Homo sapiens: one gene and its partners. The protein of the gene in region 2 interacts with the protein of the main gene of each other region in a pairwise test. Each region holds a gene or a part of one and is shown on either strand. Other genes may lie near its edges.

Region 1 (6,955 bases), on a different chromosome or scaffold from region 2:
TTGTATCCTCTTTTATTTCGTTGAGCAGTGGTTTGTAGTTCTCCTTGAAGAGGTCCTTCACATCCCTTGTAAGTTGGATTCCTAGGTATTTTATTCTCTTTGAAGCAATTGTGAATGGGAGTTCACTCATGATTTGGCTCTCTGTTTGTCTGTTGTTGGTGTATAAGAATGCTTGTGATTTTTGTACATTGATTTTGTATCCTGAGACTTTGCTGAAGTTGCTTATCAGCCTAAGGAGATTTTGGGCTGAGACAATGGGGTTTTCTAGATATACAATCATGTCGTCTGCAAACAGGGACAATTTGACTTCCTCTTTTCCTAATTGAATACCCTTTATTTCCTTCTCCTGCCTAATTGCCCTGGCCAGAACTTCCAACACTATGTTGAATAGGAGTGGTGAGAGAGGGCATCCCCGTCTTGTGCCAGTTTTCAAAGGGAATGCTTCCAGTTTTTGCCCATTCAGTATGATATTGGCTGTGGGTTTGTCATAGATAGCTCTTATTATTTTGAAATACGTCCCATCAATACCTAATTTATTGAGAGTTTTTAGCATGAAGGGTTGTTGAATTTTGTCAAAGGCTTTTTCTGCATCTATTCAGATAATCATGTGGTTTTTGTCTTTGGCTCTGTTTATATGCTGGATTACATTTATTGATTTGCGTATATTGAACCAGTCTTGCATCCCAGGGATGAAGCCCACTTGATCATGGTGGATAAGCTTTTTGATGTGCTGCTGGATTCATTTTGCCAGTATTTTATTGAGGATTTTTGCATCAATGTTCATCAAGGATATTGGTCTAAAATTCTCTTTTTTTGTTGTGTCTCTTCCTGGCTTTGGTATCAGAATGATGCTGGCCTCATAAAATGAGTTAGGGAGGATTCCCTCTTTTTCTATTGATTGGAATAGTTTCAGAAGGAATGGTACCAGTTGTTCCTTGTACCTCTGGTAGAATTCAGCTGTGAATCCATCTGGTCCTGGACTCTTTTTGGTTGGTAAGCTATTGATTATTGCCACAATTTCAGCTCCTGTTATTGGTCTATTCAGAGATTCAACTTCTTCCTGGTTTAGTCTTGGGAGAGTGTATGTGTCGAGAAATTTATCCATTTCTTCTAGATTTTCTAGTTTATTTGCGTAGAGGTGTTTGTAGTATTCTCTGATGGTAGTTTGTATTTCTGTGGGCTCGGTGGTGATATCCCCTTTATCATTTTTTATTGCGTCTATTTGATTCTTCTCTCTTTTTTTCTTTATTAGTCTTGCTAGCGGTCTATCAATTTTGTTGATCCTTTCAAAAAACCAGCTCCTGGATTCATTAATTTTTTGAAGGGTTTTTTGTGTCTCTATTTCCTTCAGTTCTGCTCTTAGTTATTTCTTGCCTTCTGCTAGCTTTTGAATGTGTTTGCTCTTGCTTTTCTAGTTCTTTTAATTGTGAGGTTAGGGTGTCAATTTTGTATCTTTCCTGCTTTCTCTTGTGGGCATTTAGTGCTATAAATTTCTCTCTACACACTGCTTTGAATGCGTCCCAGAGATTCTGGTATGTTGTGTCTTTGCTCTCGTTGGTTTCAAAGAACATCTTTATTTCTGCCTTCATTTTGTTATGTACCCAGTAGTCATTCAGGAGCAGGTTGTTCAGTTTCCATGTATTTGAGCAGTTTTGAGTGAGATTCTTAATCCTGAGTTCTAGTTTGATTGCACTGTGGTCTGAGAGATAGTTTGTTATAATTTCTGTTCTTTTACATTTGCTGAGGAGAGCTTTACTTCCAACTATGTGGTCAATTTTGGAATAGGTGTGGTGTGGTGCTGAAAAAAATGTATATTCTGTTGATTTGGGGTGGAGAGTTCTGTAGATGTCTGTTAGGTCTGCTTGGTGCAGAGCTGAGTTCAATTCCTGGGTATCCTTGTTGACTTTCTGTCTCGTTGATCTGTCTAATGTTGACAGTGGGGTGTTAAAGTCTCCCATTATTAATGTGTGGGAGTCTAAGTCTCTTTGTAGGTCACTCAGGACTTGCTTTATGAATCTTGGTGCTCCTGTATTGGGTGCATATATATTTAGGATAGTTAGCTCTTCTTGTTGAACTGATCCCTTTACCATTATGTAATGGCCTTCTTTGTCTCTTTTGATCTTTGTTGGTTTAAAGTCTGTTTTATCCAAGACCAGGATTGCAACCCCTGCCTTTTTTTGTTTTCCATTGGCTTGGTAGGTCTTCCTCCATCCTTTTATTTTGAGCCTATGTGTGTCTCTGCAAGTGAGGTGGGTTTCCTGAATACAGCACACTGATGGGTCTTGACTCTTTATCCAATTTGCCAGTCTGTGTCTTTTAATTGGAGCATTTAGTCCATTTACATTTAAAGTTAATATTGTTATGTGTGAATTTGATCCTGTCATTATGATGTTAGCTGGTTATTTTTCTCATTAGTTGATGCAGTTTCTTCCTAGTCTCGATGGTCTTTACATTTTGGCATGATTTTGCAGCGGCTGGTACCGGTTGTTCCTTTCCATGTTTAGTGCTTCCTTTAGGAGCTCTTGTAAGGCAGGCCTGGTGGTGACAAAATCTCTCAGCATTTGCTTGTCTGTAAAAGATTTTATTTCTCCTTCACTTATGAAGCTTAGTTTGGCTGGATATGAAATTCTGGGTTGAAAATTCTTTTCTTTAAGAATGTTGAATATTGGCCCCCACTCTCTTCTGGCTTGTAGGGTTTCTGCCGAGAGATCCGCTGTTAGTCTGATGGGCTTCCCTTTGAGGGTAACCCGACCTTTCTCTCTGGCTGCCCTCAACATTTTTTCCTTCATTTCAACTTTGGTGAATCTGACAATTATGTGTCTTGGAGTTGCTCTTCTCGAGGAGTATCTTTGTGGCGTTCTCTGTATTTCCTGAATCTGAACGTTGGCCTGCCTTGCTAGATTGGGGAAGTTCTCCTGGATAATATCCTGCAGAGTGTTTTCCAACTTGGTTCCATTCTCCCCATCACTTTCAGGTACACCAGTCAGACGTAGATTTGGTCTTTTCACATAGTCCCATATTTCTTGGAGGCTTTGCTCATTTCTTTTTATTCTTTTTTCTCTAAACTTCCCTTCTCGCTTCATTTCATTCATTTCATCTTCCATCGCTGATACCCTTTCTTCCAGTTGATCGCATTGGCTCCTGAGGCTTCTTCATTCTTCACGTAGTTCTCGAGCCTTGGTTTTCAGCTCCATCAGCTCCTTTAAGCACTTCTCTGTATTGGTTATTCTAGTTATACATTCTTCTAAATTTTTTTCAAAGTTTTCAACTTCTTTGCCTTTGGTTTGAATGTCCTCCCGTAGCTCAGAGTAATTTGATCGTCTGAAGCCTTCTTCTCTCAGCTCGTCAAAGTCATTCCCCATCCAGCTTTGTTCTGTTGCTGGTGAGGAACTGCGTTCCTTTGGAGGAGGAGAGACACTCTGCTTTTTAGAGTTTCCAGTTTTTCTGTTCTGTTTTTTCCCCATCTTTGTGGTTTTATCTACTTTTGGTCTTTGATGATGGTGATGTACAGATGGGTTTTTGGTGTGGATGTCCTTTCTGTTTGTTAGTTTTCCTTCTAACAGAGAGGACCCTCAGCTGCAGGTCTGTTGGAATACCCTGCCCTGTGAGGTGTCAGTGTGCCCCTGGTGGGGGGTGCCTCCCAGTTAGGCTGCTTGGGGGTCAGGGGTCAGGGACCCACTTGAGGAGGCAGTCTGCCCGTTCTCAGATCTCCAGCTGCATGCTGGGAAAACCACTGCTCTCTTCAAAGCTGTCAGACAGGGACATTTAAGTCTGCAGAGGTTACTGATCTTTTTGTTTGTCTGTGCCCTGCCCCCAGAGGTGGAGCCTACAGAGGCAGGCAGGCCTCCTTGAGCTGTGCTGGGCTCCACCCAGTTGGAGCTTCCCAGCTGCTTTGTTTACCTAATCAAGCCTGGGCAATGGCGGGCGCCCCTCCCCCAGCCTCGCTGCCGCCTTGCAGTTAGAGCTCAGACTGCTGTGCTAGCAATCAGCGAGACTCCGTGGGCGTAGGACCCTCCGAGCCAGGTGCGAGATATAATCTCGTGGTGCGCCGTTTTTTAAGCCCGTCGGAAAAGCGCAGTAGTGACCCGATTTTCCAGGTGCCGTCCATCACCCCTTTCTTTGACTCAGAAAGGGAACTCCCTGACCCCTTGCGCTTCCCAAGTGAGGCAATGCCTCGCCCTGCTTCAGCTTGCGCACGGTGCACGCACCCACTGACCTGCGCCCACTGTCTGGCACTCCCTAGTGAGATGAACCCGGTACCTCAGATGGAAATGCAGAAATCACCCGTCTTCTGCGTCGCTCACGCTGGGAGCTGTAGACCGGAGCTGTTCCTATTCGGCCATCTTGGCTCCTCCCCTGGACAGCGTTCTAAATAGCCTCCTGCCAAAAATACTATTCCCCTTTTAAAAACAAGTTTTTAAGACCCACCTAATAGAAGGAAATGTTGTAACTCGTAATCTGTGCTGACCCATCCCTCATTTTATTTACTCAACATTTATACTGTAACACTAGACTAGAGATTGTCTAATATAGATTCTAAGCTCTCAGAGAGCAGGTTTTCCTGAGTTCTGGAGCCCTCCTAAATTGCTAGCCTCTCACTTTGTAACATTCTAATTTAATTGGTACCAAGGTTCTGCAAATATTTAGTGAATGTTGATTGATGGTCTGTACTCATCTGTTCTAACTTATCTTTTTTTTTCCATTCAGTCTTCCTGATCTATATTTTCTCTTTACTTAACAGACAGTGTGGAGCATTCATTATTAAGACAATTGGGCAGCTCTATTCCAGCTCAACTGATTTCTTGTCCAATGATCCTTGCGTGGCCGAGATCCAGCTTCAACGAACCAGCTAGAAGCTGCCCGTTGTGAAACTTAGTGTTAGTTAATACCTCACCATACTCAGTTATTCCACTATAAGCTGTCTAAATTTGATGAAATTTGCTTTTTCAGCTGTTCTACAAAATTATTTAGGTAGATGTGGCATGTTGGTTTTTTATGTGCTAACCTAACTGTAATGACCTTTTCTACAACATGTTTTATCCATTCCATAAATAATAACCACATTGGGAATAGTGAGGTGTCTTTTATTTTCTCTGCTTTGTGTTATTTTTTCTTATCAAACAATTAGATGTTATGTTTCATATTATTTGATATTTATTTTCATATTTAGGATAAGAATCATTTTTAATTATAATACTTTTAATACTTTCATATATTTTACAACAGTATACTATTTAATATTAATGACAATTCTATTTTTGCTTTGCTGTTTTGTCATTTAATATGCTTTTGTCTAATTTTTAATTCATTTATTACTGTTACTCCTTATTTAATTTTGCGTCTGCCATGGTTTTCAGAATCTGAATAGTATTTATACTTCTTTTTTATAACATTTTCCAAATATTAGAAATACCATCAACATGATCAGTATTCTTGCCTTTTCATGTAATTTGACTATATTAAATTTTTTCTCCAGTGTTTGAGACAATATTGAAATCTTCCTATAACATAATTTATTTGGTATCAAATTTTATAAAATATGGATCCACCTTTGGAATTTTGATAAAAGGGTTCATCTCTGACATGATCCCATAACACTGACTGAAATTCCACCAAATTACTGTTCTTTGAATGCTTTAATCCTTAAACCTTTTCTTCTGATATGCAACCAATATATTCAATTATATATGTGATTAATTTTTAAAAGGACAATTGTTTTCATAAAATGCAAAACTATTTTTTACACCAAAGGAAAATTTTAGATTCTGATTCTAAATCCGATTTTTACTATAAAATTGGAAAATAGATGGGAGGGGTGTCATTCATTGTTCAAAAGGTACAGAACAAATCATAGGGGTTTTTAATCTCTAAAATTTCTACAGTAGTACAGGAAATATTCCTCTTTACATTCATTTGCAGTTCTTTCACTGACCTCCTAATTTTAGGTGGAGGGGGCAGGGGGAGCCATAAAAGTTGGTATTACCCTAATAAATCTATCTCTTTCCTCCCCTGTTTCAACCCCACATGTATTCCATGCTCAGCAGCAGCAGCAGAAATAGTAGGATATAGATCACAAAGGTTTTTCTGGTGAGTCAAATAGGGTGTTTTCTTTTGAAACTGTAATGAATATGTTTGCCAGTCAAATGGCTTCATGAGAACAGTAGAACCTTATGAATGTATACTAGCATACAAGGATCTCAAATACATTAATTATTCTCAGTTTTAGGAATGTAAATAGATTAAGTCCCACAATGAAATTTCAGAAGTTTTTGTTCTGTAAGTAAAAAATTACTAACCACTGATGTTCAAGATTTTCTTTTAATAGCACTATCCTTGAGAACCAAAAAGTTTATGTTTTGATTTTCAAATGTTAAACAAGATGCTAAACAAATCCTGGACTGTTAATAAAAATTAATTATGTATTATTGGATAAGGAATTTTGATGATAATTGATACCCAAGTGTGTTTCTTCCACAACTATATAGATTATATGCATACACATATATACATGTTTATATGCATATATACACACACATATATAATTTATACATATGCACTTTCTTAGAATTTAGCTTTATTTTGAGAAGCTACTAAAAATTTTGGGAGTTTGACAATCTGAATAAATGGAGGATATCATACAGCCTTCTTCATGGCCTAGCTTAATAGCCCAAACATGTTACTTTTTTTTTTTTTTTTTTTTTTTTTAAGAGACTGTCTTGCTCTGGGGCCCAGGTTGGAATGCAGTTATGCGATCATGGCTCACTGTGACCTCAAACTCCTGGGCTTAAGCCATCCTTTCACCTCAGCCTCCCTAGTAGCTAGGATTACAGGCATGCACCACCACACCCAGCTAATTTTTTATTTTTTGTAGAGACAGGGTCTTACTAGGTTCCCCAAGCTGGTCTCAAACTCCTGGGCTCAAGTGATCTTCCTACTTTGGCCATCCAAAGTGCTG
Region 2 (7,025 bases):
ACAGCACCTGCCCCCGCCCTCGTCCTTCACTGAGGCAGCCCATATGCTTGGGGCCTGTTTTCCAACACGTCTGAGCAAGGCGCCCAACAAGAAGGACGCCCCTGGGGCCAGCCCTGCATCTGCTCTGCATTCTTGAGGGTGCTCGGGCTGCCAGGGCCTCCTGATGGGCGGTTCCAGGGCAGCTCGCCTCCCCTACCCCAGCCCTGCCTGAGCCCAGACCCACCAGCTAAAGAGACCAAGCAGGGTGGCCAGAGTCGCAGTCCTGGCTGGGTGGGTGTCCAGGTACCACGCAACTCTCCCTGAACGTGGCTTCCAGCTCCAGGGCTGCCTGAAATGAAGGCCTGGCCCCCAGCCGCAGGGGATGGTGACTCCGAGGATGAGGGACACTGGGCCCAGGAGCCCCAGCTGGACGCTCTGTCCCCTGGGCCCTAGTGACACATGCAGTCAGGCTACACCCTGCCCAGCAAAGGGTCTGCCGCCACCATGCCCCAGACCTAGAGCCACCACCAGCAGGCAGGGAAGCAGGGCTCTGTGTACAGAGGGAATGTGCAGACTTCTCCTAAGCCCCAGGCCACCGCACAGCTGCCCCGCTTCAGTCCCTCCCGCCTGAGTCCCTGTCTGGAGCTGCCGGGGCAGATGGAGCCCAGGCCAGTCACTGCAGCCAGGTCACCCTGAACCCTATCATCCAGGCAGGCCGGCTCCTGTCCAGAGCTCGGAAACAGGGACTGGGCCCTTCCAGGGATCTGCCCTCCACCAAGGCTGGGAGCGGGGACACCAGAGTCTGGGGGCCTCGGTAGAACCCTCGACCTTTCCGAGCCTCTGCTGCCTCATCTGTAAGGTGGGATCTTCACACTCACAGACTGGGCTGAACTGGAATAAACCAGTCGAGAGCCCTCATGCAGCAGGTGCTTACTAACGGCAGCTGCCATGATGCAGAAGATGACGGTGGTGGAGACGGCCAGGCCGCCCCTCTGCCTAGCAGCCCCCTCCCCACGGTCCACACGAGCAGGCCCCTACCTTGTTTTTGGCCGGGCTCCGAGTATGAGGCTGGCTGGGTTCCTCAGCCAGAGCCTGGAGCTTAGGGCTTAGCTGGATGGCATCTCCCTGGCCACCTGGCTTCCCCAGGCCCTTCATGGCCGCCCGGTAGGATTGGTTCCGCAGGTTCCGCCTCAGCATGCCCCCGGGGTCCTTGTCCACGTCCATGTCATCCAGGGAGAAGCTGGGGGCTGGGAGGAGCTTAGGGTCCCGCCGGGCGGCCTCCCTGCTAAGTACAGCCGCCCCGAAGCTCTGGTGGCGGGCTGGGGTCTTTGCCTTGCTGGCCACAGCCAGGCTCTTAGGGATCAGCTGTTGGGTGCCCAGCTTGAGGGCCGCCGGGCTCTCTGTGCTCAGGACGATGGGCCATGGCTCCTCGTGCCCCGGGGGCCGAGGCTGTGGGGGTGCCGGGACCTGGGGCTGGAAGGCGGCATCGTCTCTAACACGCGGGGAGCCACGGACCATTGGGAGCCCGGAGGCTGGGTTCCCCCCGGCATCGAGCCGGAGCTCCGAGTGGAAGCGGTGTCCCAGGAGCTTCTCCTCCAAGGAGCTGTCTGAGTGCCGCTGGGCCATGCTGGGCGGCTGTGGGGTCCTGGGGGAAGGGCAGAAGTGAGGTCTCGTGAGGCTGCTCTCCCCTGCCCCCGCGGGTGTCCACCCCCCTACCCCTTTGCATATGTCTGGCCGGGGCTCCAGTACAGCTCCCAGGACACAGCAGGCAAGGACAGCGACGCAGCCAGGAGCACAGTGGATCAGTGGCACAGCCAGTCCTGACCACTGGGAGCCAGCCATGTCTGAGGCCGGAGGCTGGACACAGGATGGGACTGGGCAGGCGCTGGTTCTCCGAGCTCCAAGGGACCAGGTGGGCACAGCCTATGGGGGTAGGCTGGACCTTGGAGGTTGGGAGGCCACACTGCTTCCTCTGATGGGCAGCACGCACTGAGGACACATTCCTGAGCCTGGAGGCAGGTGGGGCAGCTCAGGTGCATGGCCCTGGAGCCCTGAAGACCTGGCCTGGAATCCTGGCTCACACCTGGCAGCCATGCAGCCTCCTGGAACCACTTCCTCGTGGTGAACGCAAGGGTCATGGCGTTGCACTGGGGGGCTTCCTGAGGCCGGCATCAGCCACAGCGGCAGTGACCACAGCCTCTGCCTCATTGGGGTCTTCCAGGCACCTGAGCCAGGCTCTGCTGGGTTGGGGGGAGGGCAGGTGCATTTGCCCACATGCTCCCGGCCCGAGCCCAGGCCTGTGTGATTCCCCTCTCTTAGCCACACAGTGATATGACTGTCGCGGACTGTCCATGGAACCTTTCCACACACCAGGCAACACGCTTGCATTTTTCCACGTTTCTGAACTGGGCATAAAGCTGACAATTCTGGTCTCAGGAGCCCCACCAGTCACCAGCCCGAGAGTCCAGTATGACACCTGGCCACTGGGCAGGTGTGGTGGTGGCAGGGGTGGCAGCCCACAGTCCCACGTACACCCCCCAGCAGAGAGCGGGAGCTGCCCTGTAGACATCTCTGTAGCCCGATCCCCACACCCCGTGGGCTGCCCCGCCCCCGCCACACTCCTGCCCGCCCCTCCTGGCAGCGCGTGCCCCCGAGCCCATCTCTACCCCACTGTTCCCTTCATGGTCCGGGGCTGGCACCCTGCCCCTGACACTACTGCTTCCCATTTCTCACTTTCCTCCTTCCAGACCCGAGGCAGGGCTGCCCTTCTGCCCCTTGGGAATGGCACAGTCCTGAGACTGGCTTTGGGACATACGTGCCTGCCAGGTAGGAATGTGGAGAGCCAGCTCTCGACCTGCCTCTGCGTCTTCCCTGGCTGCCATGACTATAGGCACGCGTGGCCAGGCAGAGCCTCAATGGCCTGGACCCCGTGTGACCGAGATGTGCAGAGCCCCCAGCCGACACGGCCTCCAGGAGCCGGGCCCAGAGGTCTGTTTCCAGGCACTTTGCGGGGCTGTTGTGGCTACACATCACCTCCTGAGTGACGGCGCATTGCTCGGCCACAGCGGTCAGGCCCACAGTGAGCTTTCACGCCCCGGGCTGCTTGCAACCCCCCTGGGCACTTGCAACCCTCAGGCCACTGAGCAATGGATTCCGAGGGTCTGGTCTCTCAGGCCTCCCAGCTTTCCCCTCTGCTGCTCAGGGGCTCCCCACACGTGTCAGGGAGCAGCCCTGACCCAGGCATGTGGTCAATGAGCAAGTGACGCTGCCTCTCCGTGCCTCAGTTTCAAAATCTGCAAAATGGGCATGATAAGAGCAAGGCCCACCTCCTGAAGGTACGGTGGGAAGTGTAAAGCGTGCAAAGCGTGTAACAGGCCTGGCCGGTGTGAGGCCTGCGTCTGCGCCGCAGTGACCAAGGCCTTGCCGAATCACAGACAAGCTCATGCTCCCTATGCTCAGGGAGCTTCGTAGGTTCAAAAGGTAACGACATGGAGAAAACTCGCTGCTTTCATTCTTTCCCTTTTAAAAAATAAAGATAAAAACAATAACCACCACCACTCAGTATGCCTCCTATACACCCAGAACGTCACACACATGAAAATGACCGGAGTCTCTTGCGGGTGGAAACTGATTTTTCTGATGGGAAAACAAGGCTGAGTCACTCGCCCAAAGTCACTTCCTGCAGGGAGGTTGCCTACAGTCAGCCACACAACTGACCTGGATTAGCACCTTTGGAGTGTCCACAGGGCACCTGGGACACCCCTCTGTCCCTGCTCAGCCCCGGGAGCCACCAAACTCTCCCAGGACACAAATTCTCTGCTAAAACCATCCCAGGAAGGCACGTGCGGCTGAGCCTCCCAGGCCCCAGGGAGGGACGGCCCCCACGCTGGCCGGGAGGGTACATTCCTCAGGACATTCCAAATCACTGGTCAAGGACAGCGGCAGACACAACAGGCCTCCCCCGGGGCTGGTGTCCATGACACTGACCAGAGTGACGCTGGTCTGCACCATCCCAGGATCACCCGCTCACAGTAGGGTGTCTGCGTTTTACCCAGGCCCGGCCGAGAAATCCATTTCTTTTAGGCTTCTGTCTACACGCCAAGCAGAGCACACTCCAGTGGGTGGCCAGCGTAGGCGGTCTACGGCCCTGCGGTCCTTTTATTCTAAATGTGATGACTTTACCTGGGGGGCATTTGATGTGGGTTGACATGCCCACAACATCACTGTGCCCCATCTCCCACCAAACAAATGTCCCCAAGACCCCACAGCCCCCAAATACAGAGACCCCAGCCTGCACTGTCTCAACCTTCTGACTCTCATAGAGGCCTTCCTCCTTCCTAATGGGGCCAGACTGCCCAGGCCTGACTGTCCCTGACCACGTCCTCTGAGACGGTGTCCTGGCCCTGGCTGGCAGCAGCTGTCCCAGGAGAGATCAAAGTCTGCTCCACTGCCAGAAGGCGCCCAAACGGGAACCTGTCAGGCGAGCCAGAGCCTGAGCCATTGCTGGGTGTGACCTCCGCTCCCAGCGAGGCAGCCGCACCCACAGGCCTAACAGAGAGCCTGAGGGGTGTGGGCAGTCCAGAGCCCCCCAGGAGCCGGCTCTCGGGAGCTGTGGCCCTGGCAGGCACCCGTTGCCTTCTGTTTTTCAGTTTTTCTAAAGAACTATGAAGACACAGACACCGTTTCAAAAGTCAACGAGCACCAAAGACTTAGCATGAAAACCCAGCGTCCCCTCTTCCACACTGCCCTGATCCCCGGAGGCCACTGCTCTGGGCTCCTCAGCTTTTCCCAGAAAAAGGCACAGCCTGCTCTCAGTGACCCCCACCTATGGGCATTCCTACCCCCTCCCTGCCTGTTGGACGAGGACTCCATCACGGCTGGCCCCATCACACGATGCCTGTGCCGGCAGAAGGCGCTGAGCCCCAGGGCAGGGCCTTGTCCACGTCCTGTTAATGATTTTCTCTCATTTGACCAGCCTGGTTTCCCCAGTTAATTTTTCCCTGAGTGTTCTGGCGTCTCTGCCATGTGCTTCTTGAGAATATATTCTATATGTCTGGCAGGCCAGCTCAGTGTTTTTCCCAGACACCCCCCGTCCTCCCTCTCCAGAGGGCCCAGTGCTCTGGGCCTCACCCTGGGCGGATCCCAGGACCTCCTCTGCTGCTTCCGGGGCCCCTCTCACCTGCTCCCGGCCCTCATTGCCCTGAAGGACATCCCCAGGCACTGTCCCAGGAAGCCACATGGGAGCCATCTTTTGGACTGCCTGAAAATGTCTTGTTTCTTCCTCTCCCCTGACTGGTGAGGAGATGAGCATTCCCACTGTAGATGGTTTTCTCCCAGAGTCGGGCAGCGCCCTTCCCTTGTTGTCAGAGTTGCTGGGGAAGGGCCCCAATGTCCCGATCTCTTTCTCGGATCACAACCGGTGTGTGGTTCTCCCTGGCCCCACTGAGGGTCTGGCGCACCTGCTGGAGCCTGGGAGCTCTGGCTGTCTTGCTGATGTGCCTCGGTAGGGTCCGTGTTCGTTCACTGAGCCAGCCTGGGAGCTCTGATTGTCGTGCTGATGTGCCCCCGTAGGGTCCATGTTAGTCCACTGAGCCAGGCACTGGGTGGAACCCTGCCAGGCGGTCACTCTTGTCTAGGGCTGCGCAGATTTTCATATTATTTCTTCCACTCTGTTTTCTCTTTTTGGAATACCCACTAATGAGTATTAAGCTCTGGTGTTTTCTCCTAATTCCTTACCTTTCCTCCCCTACTTTGTTCTCTGTGTGAGGTTTTCTCTACTTGGACTTCTTATTGGCCCCTGGTCTTATCATTTTCATTATCCTCAAAGAGCCCTCTGCTCTTCATTCCTGGCATCCTGCTCTTGCTTTATGGGTGTAACATCTTCTATTGTCTTAGAGAGGAAGGATTACATTTTCTTTGGAGCGAGTTTCTTTCTTTCTGTCGCTGGCTGCTGGAGCTGCGCCCCTGCCACATACTTCCTCCTGTCTCCGCCTCTGCTGGCCTCTGTCTCTCAGGCACAGGGCTTTCCTCAAACATCTGCTGCTGGTGGTTGATTGTTTCTGCTTCTATTGAGGAGACAGGCCTTATGATGGCGGGAGGTCCAAGTGCACACACCCTGAGCACAGGTGTCTGACCGGGAGGGCCCAATGGGACCCCCAGCCCCATGCCAGGTCCATATCCTGAAGCCTGTCCTGCAGGCCGGCTGGTTTCTACAGTGGCCTCTTTCCATTTCCTCACTGAGATGCTGGTCGGCTCCTGGTGGAGCCAGTGAAGGGGAGGGGCTGAGAGGGCAGACTCCTTTCAGCAGCTGGCCATGCTGTCCCGGCTGCAGTGCCACAGAGAGAGGTCAGATTTCCTGCAGCAGCCACGTGGGCCAGTGGCAGATCTGCTCCCCAGCAAAGGCAGCCCTGACTTGCTGAGTGGGGGCTTAGCACAGGGCATGCACAGGGCAGAGGGAGCCGCAGGCTGGCTGGCTGGCTGTCCTGTCTCCCCATGTCTGTGAGCCCTTGCGGGGCAGGGACAGTTTCCTGTTCGTGTCCCCACAGTCGGGCTCAGATTCCACACTGAAGAGCAAATGCCTGCCTCGGCACGTGCTCTGCCCTGGTCTCCTAGTACCTTGATTCTGTGTCTTCCCAGAGAGGCCCTGGTGTTCCGTGCCAAGAACCAACTTGCAAGGGGACTTGGCTCAAAATGAGCAGAGGCTGGGCCAGGGCAGCCCCATAGAGGTTCTGGGCCCATCTGTGCCACTTTTTGGGCGACTTCCTGCTGCTTCTCCTCAGGGTGGGCTGGAAAGGACCTCCCATGGCTGAGCCCTGGGGCCCAGAACTCTCTCTTTTCTCTTTACCACTAAATACCCCACCTGGTATCCCCAACACATATAGTTATGGGGCATGAGGGACTTGCCAGGAGGAGGCGTGCAGCAGAGGCGAGCAGGCGGAATCCATGGTCTCTGGGCAGTCTCAGGGGCCCCCGCCTGGCCGGTCCAAGCAGGTGGAATCTGTGGTCGCTGGCCAGTCTCAGGGCCCCCTGCCCAGCCTGTCCGTTCC
Region 3 (7,025 bases), on a different chromosome or scaffold from region 2:
TTGTCAAAAGATAACCGTCAAAAGGATTCATGTCCGGGTTTCATCACTGTGTAGTCCCATACTGTTTATCACTCCATCACAATTTGAAGGCTGTCTGAAATATCCATGAACTCCACTGGTAATTCATGGAGTTCAACTCTCTTAACCACCCTCCTCCCTGACCCATGATTTTTACCCTAACAGCCATGAGAGTTTCCAAAAATGTTATGTTTTACTTTTCTAGTGTATGTCAAAAGACATTTTGTACTGTTTTAAAATTACTATTCTTGCTATTCAAAGAATAAAAAGTATTGTTTTTCAGATGATGGGTGGATCATGCTATAAAATGGTAACAAAGTTTTGGAAATAATAGCTTTAGATTATTCCAAAAAGAAAAAAAAGAAAGCCTTTCTTGAGTATAAATTGTTTTTATGAGTTCAAGGTTACATTGGCCTCATCTTAATAATTAGCGATGATTCAGATATTTTGGAATAGCTTTATATTTTTATTTATTTTTCTTTTTGAGACAGAGTGCCACTAATATTGCCCAGGCTGGTCTCTTAACTACTGGCCTCAAGCGGTCTTCCCACCTCAGCCTCCTGAGAAGCTGGGATTACAGGTGCACACTACCAAGCGCGGCTTAGAATAGCTTTTTAGAAAACCTAAACTTTTTATGTTCTGCAACTCTCCTCATATTGAAACGTTCATGTCCAACTGTTTTTCACCTTTTCTAATGAAAGTATTCTCCAAAGAACAAATTGGAATGCTTCCAATTATAGTTGTTCCCCCTTATCCTAGGGGGACACATTGCAAGACTCCCCAATGAATCCCTGAAACTGAAGTCTGTATACACTGCCGAAGCCTAAGTATACCATGTTTTTTAGATCTAATAACCAAGATGGGCTGATAGCGTATACAGCATGGATACACTGGACAAAGGGATGATTCACGTCCTAGGCAGGAGGGGGCAAACTTTCATTTTGCTACTCAGAACATGCTCTTGCCCCATTTAAAACTTAGGAATTGGCCAGGTGCAGTGGTTCATGCCTAATCCCAGCACTTTGGGAGACTGAGGTGGGCGGATTACTTGAGGCCAGGAGTTTGAGACCAGCCTGGCCAACATGGTGAAACCCCGTCTCTACCAAAAATTAAAAATTAGCCGGGCGTGGTGGCACGTGCCTATAATCCCAGCTACTTGAGAGGCTCAGGTAGGAGAATCACTTAAACCTGGGAGGCGGAGGTTGCAGTGAGTCAAGATCACACTACTGCACTTTAGCCTGGGTGGCAGAGCGAGACTCCATCTCAAAAACAAAACAAAAAACTTACGAATTATTTATTTCTGGAATTTTTCATTTAATATGTTCGGACCTTAGGTAATTAAAACCACAGATAAGGGGGGATCACCCTAACATGAACGCTGTTTATTCTAGGAATGGAGAGCTGGTCACTTTACTAAGACAGTGCCGTAGAACAGAACTTGTTACTAATTCCTATGCTTAGGGCTTTGTTTTTTAATCACAAGATTCTAGCACCTCCCCTATCTTCCAGACTTGGATTTTGAACTTTAAAATTTTGAAGTAGTGTTGTGAATCAGTTGAATATTATTAACTTGTAGAATAATTTATGTAATTCCATGACTAGGTAACTGTATAATTCTGAAAACCTGAACAGTCAAGGCCATTTGGTTCACTTTGATTCTCAACTCCAGAATTAATATGAACTTTGATACAGAATCATTTTCTATTTCAGAAAGGCTAACCCTGTTTAAAAAGCATGTTAGCCTTACAACTTACCGTATATTTTCTACACTGTTAGTCCTAAAAATTTTATTGTGTGATGTGATTGACGTTAAACCTTAACATGGGAATGGGTTGTATGTGGGTTTTTTTGTTTTTTTGTTTTTGAGACGGAGTTTGCACTGTCACCCAGGCTGGAGTGCAGTGGCTTGATCTCAGCTCACTGCAAGCTCCGCCTCCTGGGTTCGCGCCATTCTCTTGCCTCAGCCTCCTGAGTAGCTGGGACTACAGGTGCCCACCATTATGCCTGGCTAATTTTTTGTATTTTTAGTAGAGACGGGGTTTCACCTTGTTAGCCAGGATGGTCTCAATCTCCTGACTTCGTGATCCGCCCTCCTCGGCCTCCCAAAGTGCTGGGATTACAGGCGTGAGCCACCGCGCCCGGCCATGTTTTTTGATATTCTGAATAAAAAGGATATAGCAGTTGGGATAGGCTTGGGTTCTTGTCCTTTATGTTCTTGTCCTTTCCTCATGATAATCAAATCATAATTAGAAATAAGATGCTAAGAATACAAAGGTGGCTCTATGTTAATACTGTATTGATAGGTCAAAGGAGAAAAAGCATGAGATCAATTCATTAGATACTGAAAAGTCTTTTGAGGGAATTTAATGTCTTCTTGCTTTCTTTATTAACAGAATAGGAATAAATAATAGCATAGGCATAAATTAAAAATAATGTAATTTTTTAAAATCTCAAACTAAAAATGGGAATCATACTTAAACATTAGCATTCCCAGGAGAGTTGGAGCAAGACCTCTGTGCCCACTATCACTCAACATTTCATTATTTAAGTCCTAGCAAGTGCAAAACAGAAAAGATGCATAAATATTAGAGAAGGAAAGTTATTTTTTGCAAATGGCGTATTTTTTATCTGGAAATACCAGAGAATCAAGTGAGAAACTTTGAAGAATAAAATAATTCAGTAATGATGCTTCCTACCCTAGGTTAATTAATATAAAGAAGAGTTAAATTCCTATGGCATATTTCTGGTAACAAAAACATCACTAAACTTTTAAATAAAACCCAAAACACTTCTAGTATTAAACATTTAAATGAGCTGGGCGCAGTGGCTCACGCCTGTAATCCCAGCACTTTGGGAGGCCAAGGTGGGCGGATCACAAGGTCAAGAGATGGAGACCATCCTGGACAACATGGTGAAACCCCGTCTCTACTAAAAATACAAAAATTAGTGGGTGTAGTGGCCCGCACCTGTAGTCCCAGCTACTCAGGAGACTGAGGCACGAGAATCGCTTAAACTGAGGAGGCGGAGGTTACAGTGAACCAAGATCGCGCCACTGCACTCCAGTCTGGCGACAGAGCGAGACTCCATCTCAAAAAAAAAAAAAAATTTAAATGATTTCTACTAAAAATTTTAAAAATTAGCATGCCTATGGTCCCAGCTACTCAAAGGCTAAGGTGGGAGGATCCACTTGAGCCTGGGAGGTGGAGGTTGCAGTGAGCTGTGATCACACCACTGCACTCCAGCCTCGGTGACAGAGCAAGACCCTGTCTCAAAAAAAAATTGAATGAATGTGAGCTGTGTATACATTTAAGAAAGATTAATAAAAAGATAATTATTTGCCTCCCTCTTCCAGTTCAGGGTCTCAATGGCTGGAGCCTTTCTTGGCAATTCAGAGTCCAAGTTGGGAACCAGCCCTGAACTGGACGCCATCCCAGCACAGGGTGCTCTCACCTACACCCACGCTCACAGACTGGGCCGCGTAGACACATCCATTCATGTGCATCTTTGGGATATGGGAGGAAACTGGAGTACTTGGAGAAGACCCATAAAGATGGGAGAATGAGCCAGCTTCACACAGACAGTGACCTCAGCTGAGACTTTTTGTTTTTTCTTCTCATCAACATTATAACAAAACAAAGTTGAATGAAACGTCTTTCGAGGACCTGCTATAGACTAAAATTTTAAAACCCTGTCCCATATATGAACGAACAATTAGAAAATACAGTAGAAGAAAAGAGCCTATTTACAACCACAGGGAAAAGTTTAACAGAAATCCCTTAAAAGAAATGTATATAGGAGATCTGATCAAGAAAATAAACTACATGAAAAGGACAGGAACTAAACAGTCCTCTGTGTCTGCATTTGCGGGTAGAAAATATTCAGGGAGCCGGGTGCGGTGGCTCATGCCTGTAATCCCAGCACTTTGGGAGGCTGAGGCGGGCGGATCACGTGAGGCCAGGAGTTCAAGAGCAGCCTGGCCAACGTGGTGAAACCCTGTCTCTATTAAAAATACAAAAAATTAGCCGGGCATGGCGGCGCTTGCCTATAATCCCAGTTACTCAGGAGGCTGAGGCAGGAGAATCTCTTGAACCCAGGAGATGGAGGTTGCAGTGAGCTGACATCATGCTATTGCACTCTAGCCTGGGCAACAGAGTGAGACCCTGTCTCAAAAAAAAAAAAATACTTGGGGGAAACAATAAAAATAACCATAGAAAATATAAGTTAATATAATTATATAGTATTCACACTTTTAAGTATTATAAATAATATAGAGATGATTTATACGGGAAGATGTGCATAGGTTATATGCAAATACTACACCATTTTATATCAGGTACTTGAGCATCCTGGGATTTGAGTATCTATGGGGGTCCTAGAACCAATCTCCCTCAGGTACCGAGGGACTATACTATACCTTGTTCTTGAACGAGATGATTTGACATTTTAAATAGATGTTCCCCTAGATTAATCTGTAAATATAATACATTTCCAACCAGAATGCTAACACATTAATTTTTTTTTTTAACGATCTGGAAAAAATAAAAATACATAGGAAAATCTGAAAAAAAAAAAAAAAAAAAAGACAGTAGGGTGACTCACATTAATGTTTATTTAAAATATATTGTAAAGCTTCTGTAATTAAAATGGAATGGTACAGTTGCAGACCAGTAGAAAAGAATAAAGTCAGCTGGGCACAGTATCTCACGCCTGTAATCCCAAGACTTTGGGAGGCCGAGGCAGGCAGATCACTTGAGCTCCGGAGTTCAAGACCAGCCTGGGCAACATGGTGAAACTCCATCTCTACAAAAAAACTAGCTGGGCAGGATCGATTGAGCCCAGAAGGTCGAGTCTGCAGTGAGCTTATGATGGTGCCACTGCACTCTGGCCAGGGAACAAAGCAAGACTGTTTCAAAAAGAAAAGAATAAAGTCCACAATATCTGTGGGAAATGAAGGAGGCTCTATAGCCTGCTTGTTAAGAGCCTAAGTTCTGGAGTCATACTGGGTTTGAACTGCTTCTCTCCTTGTCATTAGCTCTGGGACCTTAAACAAGTTAACTTGCCAAGCTTCCTCTTCTCCAGCTGTAAACTGGGGGTGAAAATAAAATTTGTATCTGGGTTCTGGAGCTACCAAGTGAGGTGGTGCACAGTACACCACCATGTTCCATGTTTCATGGTAAATATTGGATAGATGCTAGTTATAAATGGCAGCAGTATAGTGTAGTAAAGGTAGCTTGTCCAATTAGCTGAGAAAAGATAGATAGTTGATAATTATTGTTTGGAAGAATTTAAAGGTTTTAAACAAGAAGTTAAACCATAAAAATACTATATGAAAGCAAGGCAGAGTAGGGAAGGCCTTTGTAAATATATCACAAAATCCAGAAGCCACGTATAGGAAAACATTGATAGATTTGATGACATGAAATTTAAAACTTTTGTATAACCAAAATATGCCCTTTAAGAGATCTACAGATAAAAGGAATTTTGGAGAAATTTTTTTTTTTTTTTTTTTTTTTTTTTTTTTTTTTGATATGGAGTAGCCCTCCGTTGCCCAGGCTGGAGTGCAGTGGCGCAATCTCGGCTCACTGCAAGCTCCGCCTCCCAGGTTCATGCCATTCTCCTGCCTCAGCCTCCCAAGTAGCTGGGACTACAGGCACCCGCCACCACACTGGGCTAATCGTTTTTTTGTATTTTTAGTAGAGACGGGGTTTCACCGTGTTAGCCAGGATGGTCTCGATCTCTTGACCTCGTGATCCGCCTGCCTCGGCCTCCCAAAGTGCTGGGATTATAGGCGTGAGCCACTGCACCCGGCCAAAAAATTTTAATCTCATATATGAAAGCTAGTCTGCTTAGTATCTTACAAAGCAGTGAGAGAAAAAGATGTGCTACTGAGTAATAAAATGATCAAAGGCAAAGAGTACCTACAGTCTTTTATTTATATAAAGTCAAAGAACAAGCAAAATTAAGTCAAAAATTGACTGCCATGAGGCAAGGTAGTTGATTGGAAAAGAGCATGAGTAAACTTTCTGGAGTGAGAAATGTTCTGTATCTTGGGGTGGTTATAGGGGCGTATACAATTATCAGAGCTTGTTAATCTGAACACTTAAGATCTCTGCATTTTGTTGAGTGCTAATTACACTTCAATTTAAAAATTGGTAAAAGTACTCCAGGACATCAATAAATTTAAATTTGGGAGTACACACAGTGGCTCATGGCTATAATCCCAATACTTTGGGAGGCTGAGGCAGGAGGGTCCTTTGATCCCAGGAGTTTGAGACCGGGTCTGGGCAACATAGTGAGACACCTGTCTCTGCAATAAATTTTTAAAATTTTAAGAAATTTGCTGGGCATGATGGCACACACCTGTAGTACCGGCTATTAGGGAGACTGAGGCAAGAAGATGACTTGAGCCCAGGAGGTCAAGATTGCAGTGAGCTGTGATCTCTCTCGCCACTGCACTCCAGCCTGGGTGACAGAATGAGACCCTGTCTCCAAAAAAAAGACGAGGAAATGTAAGTTAAAATAAGACGCTAATTTTTAATATCTATTGTCATTATAAACAATAAATTTAATAATATCCAGTGGTAAAAGGAGTTAGAGAAATGAGTGTAAATTGGCATGGACTTTTCAAATGGATTTTAGATAAATTTATCTGTTGACTCTAAATTCCATGTCCAGTGCTTTTTCCTGGTGTTAGATTCTCACACACAAACAAAGAAGTGTTGAGAGATGTTCACTGTATCATACTTAAAACAACTTATACTGCTACAAAAAGAAGGTAAATTAAATTGCAAATCATTTTTGTATGATGTGCAGCCATTAAAAGGGATGAAGTTAATAGAGCTGTATGAACTATTATGGAAAACTTTCCTATGTAAAGAAAAACACATTACATAAATAAGATTCCGCTTAAGTAATAATAATGTATGCATAGAAAGTTCCTTAAGGAATATTTAAGAAATGGTGAACACTGATTTTGAAATTTTTCTTTCTTCCTTCATTTCTTTTCT

Evidence for each region. The genes of interacting proteins can lie anywhere in the genome.
Region 1: the proteins of ARHGEF16 (region 2) and BOLL interact in binary tests that used the Homo sapiens proteins (3 or more experiments, as listed by UniProt).
Region 3: the proteins of ARHGEF16 (region 2) and MAPK1IP1L interact in binary tests that used the Homo sapiens proteins (3 or more experiments, as listed by UniProt).

The regions. Positions count from the first base shown.
Region 1 is NC_000002.12:197,726,365-197,733,319, reverse strand, and holds the end of BOLL (protein boule-like), read left to right. Parts: intron 1-4,741; coding exon 4,742-4,765; coding exon of another isoform or gene 4,766-4,853; 3' UTR 4,854-6,430; downstream 6,431-6,955. UniProt on the Homo sapiens protein: Probable RNA-binding protein, which may be required during spermatogenesis. May act by binding to the 3'-UTR of mRNAs and regulating their translation.
Region 2 is NC_000001.11:3,457,665-3,464,689, reverse strand, and holds part of ARHGEF16 (rho guanine nucleotide exchange factor 16), read right to left. Parts: exon of another isoform or gene 5,191-7,025; coding exon of another isoform or gene 5,159-5,190; intron 1,625-5,158; coding exon of another isoform or gene 1,606-1,624; coding exon 1,018-1,605; intron 1-1,017. UniProt on the Homo sapiens protein: Guanyl-nucleotide exchange factor of the RHOG GTPase stimulating the exchange of RHOG-associated GDP for GTP. May play a role in chemotactic cell migration by mediating the activation of RAC1 by EPHA2.
Region 3 is NC_000014.9:55,054,647-55,061,671, forward strand, and holds part of MAPK1IP1L (MAPK-interacting and spindle-stabilizing protein-like), read left to right. Parts: intron 1-6,508; exon of another isoform or gene 6,509-6,525; coding exon of another isoform or gene 6,526-6,527; intron 6,528-7,025.